Linked DNA regions of Homo sapiens: region 1 is linked to region 2. Evidence: fine-mapped expression QTL. A gene starts in region 2. The other region holds a variant in brackets. All regions are shown on one strand. Distances are from middle to middle. Region 1 overlaps C5orf58 (chromosome 5 open reading frame 58). Region 2 holds the start of LINC01187 (long intergenic non-protein coding RNA 1187).

Evidence for each region. PIP is the estimated chance that this variant, and not a neighbour inherited with it, causes the effect.
Region 1: its variant is fine-mapped to the expression of LINC01187 in whole blood (TOPMed, PIP 0.90).

What each region holds. Positions count from the first base shown.
Region 1 is chr5:170,235,298-170,240,680 of GRCh38, reverse strand. All of the region lies in intron 3 of C5orf58 (chromosome 5 open reading frame 58), which reads right to left. Among named protein-coding and RNA genes, the nearest start is that of C5orf58, 5.0 kb to the right of the region's middle. The variant T/G (reference allele first, on the strand shown) is at 2,804.
Region 2 is chr5:170,196,285-170,201,667 of GRCh38, reverse strand. LINC01187 (long intergenic non-protein coding RNA 1187) reads left to right here and starts at 2,527. Exons shown (of 5, transcript NR_108022.1): 1 at 2,527-2,926; 2 at 3,839-3,916; 3 at 5,037-5,184.

The DNA.
Region 1 (5,383 bases), 39 kb before region 2:
AAGGGCTAATATCCAGAATCTACAGTGAACTCAAACAAATTTACAAGAAAAAAACAAACAACCCCATCAAAAAGTGGGCGAAGGACATGAACAGACACTTCTCAAAAGAAGACATTTATGCAGCCAAAAACACATGAAAAAATGCTCATCATCACTGGCCATCAGAGAAATGCAAATCAAAACCACAATGAGATACCATCTCACACCAGTTAGAAAGGCAATCATTAAAAAGTCAGGAAACAACAGGTGCTGGAGAGGATGTGGAGAAATAGGAACACTTTTACACTGTTGGTGGGACTGTAAACTAGTTCAACCATTGTGGAAGTCAGTGTGGCGATTCCTCAGGGATCTAGAACTAGAAATACCATTTGACCCAGCCATCCCATTACTGGGTATATACCCAAAGGACTATAAATCATGCTGCTATAAAGACACATGCACACGTATGTTTACTGCGGCATTATTCACAATAGCAAAGACTTGGAACCAACCCAAATGTCCAACAGTGATAGACTGGATTAAGAAAATGTGGCACATATACACCATGGAATACTATGCAGCCATAAAAAATGATGAGTTCATGTCCTTTGTAGGGACATGGATGAAATTGGAAATCATCATTCTCAGTAAACTATCGCAAGAACAAAAAACCAAACACCGCATATTCTCACTTATAGGTGGGAATTGAACAATGAGATCACATGGACACAGGAAGGGGAATATCACACTCTGGGAACTGTGGTGGGGTGGGGGGACGGGGGAGGGATAGCATTGGGAGATACACATAATGCTAGATGACGAGTTAGTGGGTGCAGCGCACCAGCATGGCACATGTATACATATGTAACTAACCTGCACAATGTGCACATGTACCCTAAAACTTAAAGTATAATTAAAAAAAAAATAAGATTTATGTTATTACAAAATAAGCATGACATAAAAACTTACTAAAAGGGTGCTCTTTAGCCCAACTTCTCGGCTATATCACTAAACTGCAACTTGATTTATACAAATTTGATTTATATGGTTTTAACTTATTTTTATCTATGTTATACATGCATATAGTACCAAGAATCAGATAAGTCTAAGGCATGTTACAAAAAAACTGCAGTTCCAATCTCCCAGAGGCAACCATTTTAATTTTTTTTTTTTATAGCTCACTTTGTTTTTGTTGCTTTGGTCATTTCAGTGTGTCTGTTTTGAGTATTTTTATTGTGGGGAGTGGTGGGGTGGTGTTTACCTCTGTAACTTTAAATTTTTTGAGATTTGATTTTTTTTTTTTCAATTTTCAGTGTTACCTGCCTCTGACACAGAAGATTAAGATACAGCTCTTTCACACACCCTCTTCTCTCCCAATATACTTCAGGAAAAATTTTTGCTTAGCTCAATTATCTAATGTTTAAATGTTAATTATACAAATATTCTTCATAGCTGAGTCTTGTCATATGACATTTTCCTTCCTGCACGCAACCCACCAGAGGTAATAATTGGGTTTTTGCATTGCTGCATTATCAGAAATATATCCTAAATGTCCCCCAATTGAGTAAATTTGCTCTTGGGTTATTCAACACCTTAGCTATTCTATTGTTAAACGTCTCTCCTCTCCTGGAGCCTTCTGATTTGCTCCAATCTGAACTGATTGCTTACTAGCACTGCTGTACAGCTGGTATCTTGGGAACTCCCTTCACTAATATCCTAGAGACTCCTTTTATCCCTCCATTCTGTGGAGTGCCCTTTTCCCCAGATTCCTGTGTCTCTCTTTTTGATCTGTTCCCTTGTTTGGTGACATATAGGCTCAGTAACTTCCAGAGGGAATAAAATTATATGTCTGAAAATTTATCTACACTAATCCTTAATTAGGTTGACTAGCTATAGAAATCTAGGTTGGAAATCATATTTTTTTCAGATTTCCAAAGGCACTGCTGCATTGTCTTCTAGGTTCCAGTGAAGCTGGAGTCATATGAGAACTTTCATATGATTGTTTTGTTTTCAGAAGCTTTACAGATCTTTTTGTTCTCTCAGTAGACTGAAATTTCACAACATTCTGCCTTGGTATGAGCCTATTTTCATGCACTGTGGTGGACTCTTTCATTGTAGAAACAAATGCCCTTCAACTCTAGGAAGTTTTCTTTATTTCTTTAATGAATTGCCCTTCATTCCTTGTGTATGTTCTCTCTTTCTAACACTCTTATTTGTTGGATGTTGGACTTCCTTCACTTACCTAATCCTTTTCCTCCCCATCACCAACACTTTCCATCTCTTTTGTTTTGTTTACACTCTAGAGGAATTTCTTCATTTTACCTTTCAACCCTTCTATCGAGTTTTTCATGTCTATGGTCACATTTTTAATTTCCAAGAGCTCCTTCTTGTTCTCTGAATATTTTTTATAGTATGTAGTTCCTTTTTCATGGATACAGTATCTTCTCTTCTCTCTGAATATTAATAATTTCTTGAAATTTTCATCTCCCCTCATTATTTGTTTCTTCCTCATTGAATCTGTTGATTTTTTCTCTGCTTTTTAATATTAGATTTGTCCCTCAAGTATCTGTTGTGCCTTAGTTGCCCATATTTAAGACTGTGACACTAAAAAGACAATTGGAAGTTCTGCACCTGTGGTACTCAATAATGTGGGGTGTTCTGGCTGGGTTATTTTGTTGGGAGAACCTCTGCTATTAGTATCTTTAGATCTTTTATCTTAGGCTGGTCAGATTCCTGAGAGAAAAATCTACTTGGTGGGTATAAATCTGGCTGCCAGTATTTTGGTAGCCCAGTGAAGGAAAAAAAACTGGGGGTCTTGTAATTT[T/G]GTAAGTAAACTTTGTTTCAGTGTCCTTCTTTACAGTATACTACTTTCCCTCAACCTATGACTAGTGGTTCCAGGGCAAATATCCTTGTTTTAACCTCAAGTCTTTTGTCACAGTGAAGGGATAGCTGCCCAGCTATGCAGAGGGCAGAAGAGACCTCAGGGATCTACAATTCTTATATATTTAACTAGTCTTCCTATTATCCAAATTTCACCCCTACTTCCAGAAGATCCTGGTGCCACCATGAATTGAGTCGTAGGGGCTATTTTTGGCTTTACCCAGCCAGCTTAGGGTTCAGATTTTTGGGCTTTGGGGTTCAGACTTGTCTATTTGCTTCTCCATTTGCCTTTTGTTTTGTTATCTCTTCTTGGAATCTCTTTACTTGTGGATTTTTGTCTCTTTAAAAATCACTTAAATTTAAATCTCAGGTGTACCACTGACTAGTTGCTTGACCTTGAAAAAGTTAAATCTCTCTATTTACACATCTGTAAATGCCAATGGCAATAGTTCCTACCTCATAGGATTATGATGAAGAGAGTTCATTTATGCAGAGCTCTTAGAAGAGTCCTGGATTATGGTAAATTCTGTAAAGGTTGGCTGCTGACATTACTATTTAGGGGAGGAAGTGAGGGTGCACAGAGTGTTCATTTAATCCTCTACATTTACCAGAAGTCTACCTTCCTAGCGTAGCTCTACAGGTCCCTCAGAGTCTAACTGCCTGACCTACCCATACAATGTCTCAAGAAAACATCTATCACATAGTTATTACATTTTATTTTATGAAAGAATATTCTCCAAACTAGAACAATTAGATAATCAAGTTTGGGGGGAATCTAAAGCTTCTTAACTGTTTTAAATGAGTTCAAGCATCCAGAACCATTTATTCATTTAATAAAAATTTTTTAAGAATCGAATCAATCAAGGCACCGTGTTAAGTACTAGAAATACCCATAAGGAGCTTACAGTTGAGCAGGGATAAGAAAAGTAAGGAAATATGCAATTATAAAATAGTATAACAGGTGATAGCAAAAGGCAGAAAGGATAACATGCTGGCTCAAAAAAAGTTTTCCATTGTAAGAGACCTTGACTACTAGCAGTTAACCTGGTGTGTTGGAGGTAGGGTATAGCAATGGGATTTCAGACAGACAAGTATGTGTTGAAACAGATACAGAAAAGCACTTGTGGAGATATGCAAATAGTTCAGTACAGCTGGAGCATAGAACATGCAGTAAGAACAGAGTAAGAGACTAGAGGGGAAAGGAGGGGAATGATCTGAGCAGGTCATATAGTCCATTCTAAGATGTTTAGACTTTATCCTGAGGACAATGGTGAGCCAATGAGGGTTTTCTGCAGATTCGCATTTTAGAAGGAGAATCTTCACTGTGGTGTTGAAGCTGGTTTTGAGAAATGATGAATTAAAGGTAGTCAGATTTCTTAATATGTACTGTAAATTTGTGAAATATGTAGCATAAAGCACTTTCCAAACTTATTTGGCCATAAGAACATTGACTCTGTTCTACTGTACACCATCTATTAACATTGCTTGAAACAGCAGGGTTCACAGATCAAAGTCCAGGAAATGCTGTCCTAGGGAGAACACATGGAAAAAGCATATTAGGCACTCATTATTTGGTGCCTAACGAACGGCCATGCCCTCTTCTTCTTGGAGTCACAGCTTGATTTTGTTTGAGGTGTTCCTTTCCCCAGCTCCTGTAGTAAGTTCTGAGTGGTCCAAACTGGTCTTGGCAGTCCCAGTCCCCTTAGCTGTGGCTGCTGTAAGCATCAGCATGTGATGCAAATCTGGCCAATGAAAGGGAACTGTGCTGGAGGGATCTGGGAGGAGACTTATAAAAAGAGACTGTCTATATATGAGCACCTCTGAAGGTAATGATCATGAGGGGTAATAAAGAGAGTGAACATGACAGAGCAGAAAGATGGAAAGAGCCTGGTCCCTGACAAAATCTTTAAACCTCTGAATTAACTTTAGGGCTCTGCTACCTTGGATCTTCTTGTTTTTCCTTATTGTATAAGTTAAGTTGGTTTTTTTGTTACTTATAGATGTAGGCCTCATAACTGACACAGGTTATCTTTAAATACCCAAGAGTTGTTTTAAAAAGAATAACTACATATTCAGTGTAGTTTTCATGGTTAGAAATAGGACTCTTAGGTGAAAGCAATAGGGGAACAGATTTCAGCTAGCTGGTGAGAAGGAATTGTTTAAAATAGAATGGATTGACTAGTGAGACAGGAAGTTCCCCAGCATAAGAAATGTTTGGTCAGGGATAGATTATCCCTAGAAATATTCAATCACAGAAATTTTCTTGGGATAAAATAACTGAATATGTCTGTGAGGTGAGCGACTAAACATCATGACCTATAAGGTCTAATCCTACTATATGAATCTGTTTAAAATGAAGAAGCTTTAAGTCACAGAATCTAATTTATACTTTTTAATTTGGAATGGACCTTAGGGGCTTAGTAAGAATTTATAAAGACAATGAATTTTGCTGAATGTGACATAGTCTTGAATGGTGTGTTGAAGGGAAGGAAGGGAAGTAAAATTTACAGAGGTTAGACAACCT
Region 2 (5,383 bases):
ATTGAAGGAGATAAACCAGGTAAGGCATCCAGCTCAACGCTGGTGCATGGAAGTGTGCAGTCAATGCTAGTTCCCCTTCCTCTTGCAAATGCTGACTAGCTTCTTAGCAATAAGGCCTCCATTTCCCTTATCAGTGTCCCTTTCATACAGAATTCTCAAAAGGGAAATACACACTTTCTGAACATTAACTACAGGGGCAAAACCCTTACAGGAGGTGCTATCATGTGAGAAGCTCTGAACATCCAAAGATGATAGCTCTTTAAAGGGGAAACCAGAAACTTCACCCTCCCCATGGATGTTTTTACCAAGTGTATTTTGGAATAATCTTTTCTCTGTTGGTCAAACAAACGGCCCTTGTAGGTGTGGTGGGTGTGGTGGAGGTTTGGGGAGTGGGGTGCTGGTGTGCCCAGAGTGGCCATGATTCATTGTTGATTGAAATTAGACTGTGGGCATCCATGTGACCTTTGTGTCATCATGGAAACTCTGATGAGAGTGACTGCCCAAAACAGAGCTCTCCAGGGCTCAGCACCCTCCCTCCTGGAATGTGTCCCAAGGTCTTTCCAGGGCAAGTCGGGCCTCAGCTCAGTGTCACCTCTCCAAGGAAGGCTTCTCTGGGCTCTGCATTTGATGTTGACTTCCTTGTTTTAATGTCTGCTTAGCACTCTCTGGTCTGGCCTATCTGTTTATCTGATTCTTTTGTGTTTCCTCCATTATCTGTAAGCCCCAGATGTCAGGGAAGTTGCCTGTGTTACTCTCCACTGAATGCCCAGCCTAGGTCATGGTGGTCATCAATTTCATTGGTCACCAATATCTGTTGCTTCAATAAATGAGTCCTCTTCACCCTGTTTGCTCTGTGATAATGAAGCCCAGTGAAGGTCTTGAGCCCCATCATGACTTGAAGGGTGGATTGTGAGAGCTCAAGAGTATGTCTGTGGAGGATGCATTAGGACTGAGTTGGGGGGTCATGACATTTGATCCCTGAAAGCAAGAAAACAGCTTCCACTCTCGGATATGGTTTCCTCTTTTCTTTGATTGCAACTGGTTGTCATGATCCCTCCAGTCCATCTTGGGTGCAGAAACCCTGGGGATTGCCAAAGGCTCCTTTCTGAACCATCTTTTCAAACATGCGGGACATTCCCTGTCCAAGTGAGCTGCAAGGACAAAATAGAAATTTGTGGATGCAAAATGAGATTACTGATGTGGTTGCTGAAACTTATAAAACTCCCTCAGTGATAGGGGTTGTGGTGGCCTGTAAAGGGGATAATGATGACACCTTCAAGCTCTCCTTTTATACCACACAGCCGGTGGAGTCAGGACTTAGGTTCGAATCCAGTCAAGCTATATACATCTGTGTGACTTGGGCAGACACTTTTCCTCTTTTAAGTATCAGTTTCCTCACCTGTAAAATAGGAGTGATAAAACCTACCAAACCTGTGAGATGTCCCCATGACAGAGCACCCAGCACAGGCCACGTAAGGGCTTTCCTGATGTAAGCTTAAGCAGGACAGGCTCGGGCTCAGGACTGAGGCCTCTGGAGCCACCCTCCTACAGGCTGGGTGGCCATGGATAATGTGCTTCACCTCTCTGAAGTCTCGGTTTTCTCACCTGTAAATTGGCCGTAATAACACCTAGGGTATATTTCCTAGGGCTATTGGGAGAACCAGTTAGAATATATTTTTCACATAAAATGTCATTCAGGTAATTATGGCTGTTTAAAGCCTTATAAACTTAGATCTTGCCCTTGTAGACAGAAATGAAACAATTGCTGTGACTGGGTCTGATATCATAGCCAAACCCCTACACAAAACAACAGACTTATCATTCAAACAAATCAGTGAAAATAATTGGTCTTGTAAGTTGTCAATACCCTGTGCAACAAAAGCATTGGTGGAATGACCTTGAGCATTAAGGGGGAGTTGTAGGGATATCTTCTAGAGAAAAGATGGAGTTGTCACCTCCCATGTGCTCTGCTACATCTTCTCTTTAACTTTTCCCTTTGCCCAAAGCAACATGGACCATCTGTTTAATCAACCTCCACCACAACTCCATTCCCCAGTAAGCCAAGTCAGCAACTACTCAAATGCCTCATTCTAAGATGTGCTGATGGAGTGTGGCCTGCCTCAGAGGGTCTCTCCCTTCAAATAGGTCTATATTGTCTGGTTTGTTTGTGAACAGAGCCAGGTAGGTGCCGTGTGGCTCAGAGAGGTGGCTGGAAGTGACCTTCCATGACTCAATTCCACAGGTTTGTTTGCAAGAACACAGACACACGAGTGGCCACTGACAATATGTGTTCCAACATTATATACGGGGTATATTTTGCTCAGAAACATGCCCTGTTAGTTGTTGAAACCTTTTTTGCATTCCCTGAAACAAACGACACTATGGTGTATTTTCTTTTGGGGGGCAGTAAATAAAAGTCTTTTATGTTGACAATGATAATATTATATTCTACAATCTATTTGCATTTCTCTATCCTGTGGATTTTATTGCTTAGTATAAATCCCCAGGCTGAGGTGCATTAAGCTTCACTCAGAGAGAAACAATGCATTTTATCATAGGGCCGGACAGCTATATGCACAAGATGCTACCTGCAGAGATTGGTTTTTGCCCAGATGTGCAGGAGAGATGCACAGAGAGGAAGAAATGCATACATGTGTGCAGGTTTTGGCGTGTGCACAAGAAGCCTGGAAGGATTTTCTTTGGATCTACAGTCAAAATGGATTTCCGAGAGGAAGCTGTCTGAAAACACACCTCTTCCCTGTGCTACATACGGTCCCATCTCTGCCAGCCAGGTTGTCAGGAAAGTGATCAGCACTGGCTTCAACTCTGGCTAGAGCTCTTTGGCCAATGTGATGGGCAGAAAACTGGAATGAGGACAGAAAAGCACCTCAGAGGTTTGAAGAGTCTAGTCTCTCACCACCTTGCTGTAGGTTTTCTGAATACTTCTGAGTTTAGGAGCATTTTTTCTCAACAGGCAAGTCAGGAGCTGCTAAGATAAACCATGGCAGTAAGCTCGAGCCAGTGTTCGTATTTGCCATTGATCGGCCACCAAGTGCTTGCTATGTGCCATGCATTGTGCTAAGCACTATCTCATTTAATATTTACAGCAATCTTATGAGGTAGATGCTACTGTTATCTCCATTTTACAGATGGGGAAACTGAGGCACAGAGTTCCACAGCTGGTAACTTGAGGAATAGGAATTCAACCACTGGAGAGTCTGGCTGGAGTTTTTTGTGGTAGGAGAAAATATGCTGTCTAAATTTGCCTTGGGAAACCATCATGGTGGTCACAAAACCACTTCTACGGCTTGCCTTGACCTAGCAGGAATGAAGATGTAAAGAAAGAATGAGCGCGTCATGGTTATGATGGGATGATGATGTCTGTTGTGTTGTTTGGTGTCAGTTTCTGTAACGCCTTTCTATTTCAATCAAGGCTATTATCTTTTCCTCTGTTTTAGTGAAGTTTCCTTGAAGTAGAAAATGGGAGTGTATTGGGCATCTCAGAGTTTTCAGCTGAACTGAAGGGTCTGATGGTAACTTTACCCCCAAATCTCTGAGAGAAAAGCAGGGAGTCCCTGCTTCAGCTCTGCTCAGAAGAGCCTCCCTCACATGGTGGTTTCTGTGTCACTAGACTGGTTAACCAAATGGTTCTTCTAAATACCCAACTTTTAATAGAAACTCCTGCGGCTTGGATTATTAAAGTCCTAACATGCTTATTTAATCGTGTTTCAAGTCCATCTATCTTTTTTGAGTCTAAGGAAGACTCACTAGGTCAGAAGGAGTAGAGGGAAGAGGATTAATACATGATTTTCTTTTTCCCCTTTTTCTTTTAACTTAGGCTGAGACTTATTTGAATGCCTGTTTCATATGGAGCTTTTAAGTGTAACAGTTGTGAGTGAAATTGCCCCTTTTCAAGGTAATTGAATTCCATTTTTCACTTTCCATTTCCCTCTAGAAAAATCAAAACGTTTTCAGAGCTTGGCTTCTTAGTGGGTGATTTTCTAAGGTGGGAACTTTAGAACCATAAAACATTCTAGTGTGGCAAAGGCATTCAGGAACCGGATGACCAGGCCCCTTCTCCGCAGGTGAACAGCCTCCACCAGCCGGTCTTGGAGAACATATTGATTTCACTGTGTTTTTATTTGAAACACCAAAGGAATGCCCATATCTTGTCCTTGGGCCAGGGCTGTGGGTTAGGGGAGCTGGGTTTCTGTCCAGAATCTTGTCATCTGTAGGGCAGCTGAGGGGCATTATTACCCAGAGGTCCCTGGAAACCTGTGCTAAATTGGTTTGGATCAGTGTCCGTGAAAATGTTGGACAAAGGAGAGTCGATTTTAGCTGACACCTGGACACGACTTTAAATAACACTGTATCACGGAGCAACACAATGTCCTCCCAACTCTTTTTCGGTCTTTCCGATTATGTTAGGGACAAAGTCTCAGTTTGGTGCTGTTGTGGTCGAACTATCTTCTCATCTCTGTTTTTTAAAGTCAGGCAGATCAAGCCTTACTCCTAGGGCTTTAGAAGGTAATAGTTTCTGATTTGGATTTAATCACATTGTTTTATTTCCTTTTTAACATTTTTATGACAACTTTTGCTTTATAGCAGTTTTAAAGGTAGGAAAAAATTTTCGTTTGAAAACAAGTTGGTTTGAGATGTTTTTCACTCTTACATAAAAGACCCACCTTCACAGCGTATGAGCTTCTAAAGTTGGGGAAGCAGTGGCTTAGGTGGGCAGGCAGGAAATTCAAGCAGGTTGGTTTCTGCCAAAGTCAGAGATGATTGCCACTTACTGGAAGGCTGTGTTGGAACAGAGTGGGCACAGGCATTGGGAGCAGAGCTGATTTCCAATCTTCCTGCTGCCCTCGCTGCCTGTGTGTGCCGTGGCCTTCTTGAGCTTTAGTTTTCTCACCTGTGGAACAGGTTTCATGAGCAGTTGGAAGGAAGCAAATGAGCTTCATTTTCTACAACAGGGTGGGTGGTGTAGTTGATATTCACCCCAAAGGTGCAGGATCCCCACTTCTGTTTATTGCCAGCGCTCCGAGTTTGCTTCTGCATGGAAGGGGAAGATGGACTAGAGCTGATACCTCCTGCACCCTGGTGAAGAAATGCACCCTGAGGCCAGAAAATAGTACAAACCCATCTGGCTGCAACAGTCCAGCAGCATGAAGATCAAAGTCACGTGTGAGTTTTGTGCACGGGCAGCCTTTCCTCTTCTCAGGCTGCAAATCTTTGGCAATCGGAGGCAGGCTCTGAATTAAGCTTAATTAAAATTCACTCTTAATTAGGGCCATTACTTAAAATCAATTCTACATAATAAAGCTGTGTAATCATAATTAAGCCCCAGAAATGGGATTAGGAAGCACAGAATGCAAAAGCCAAA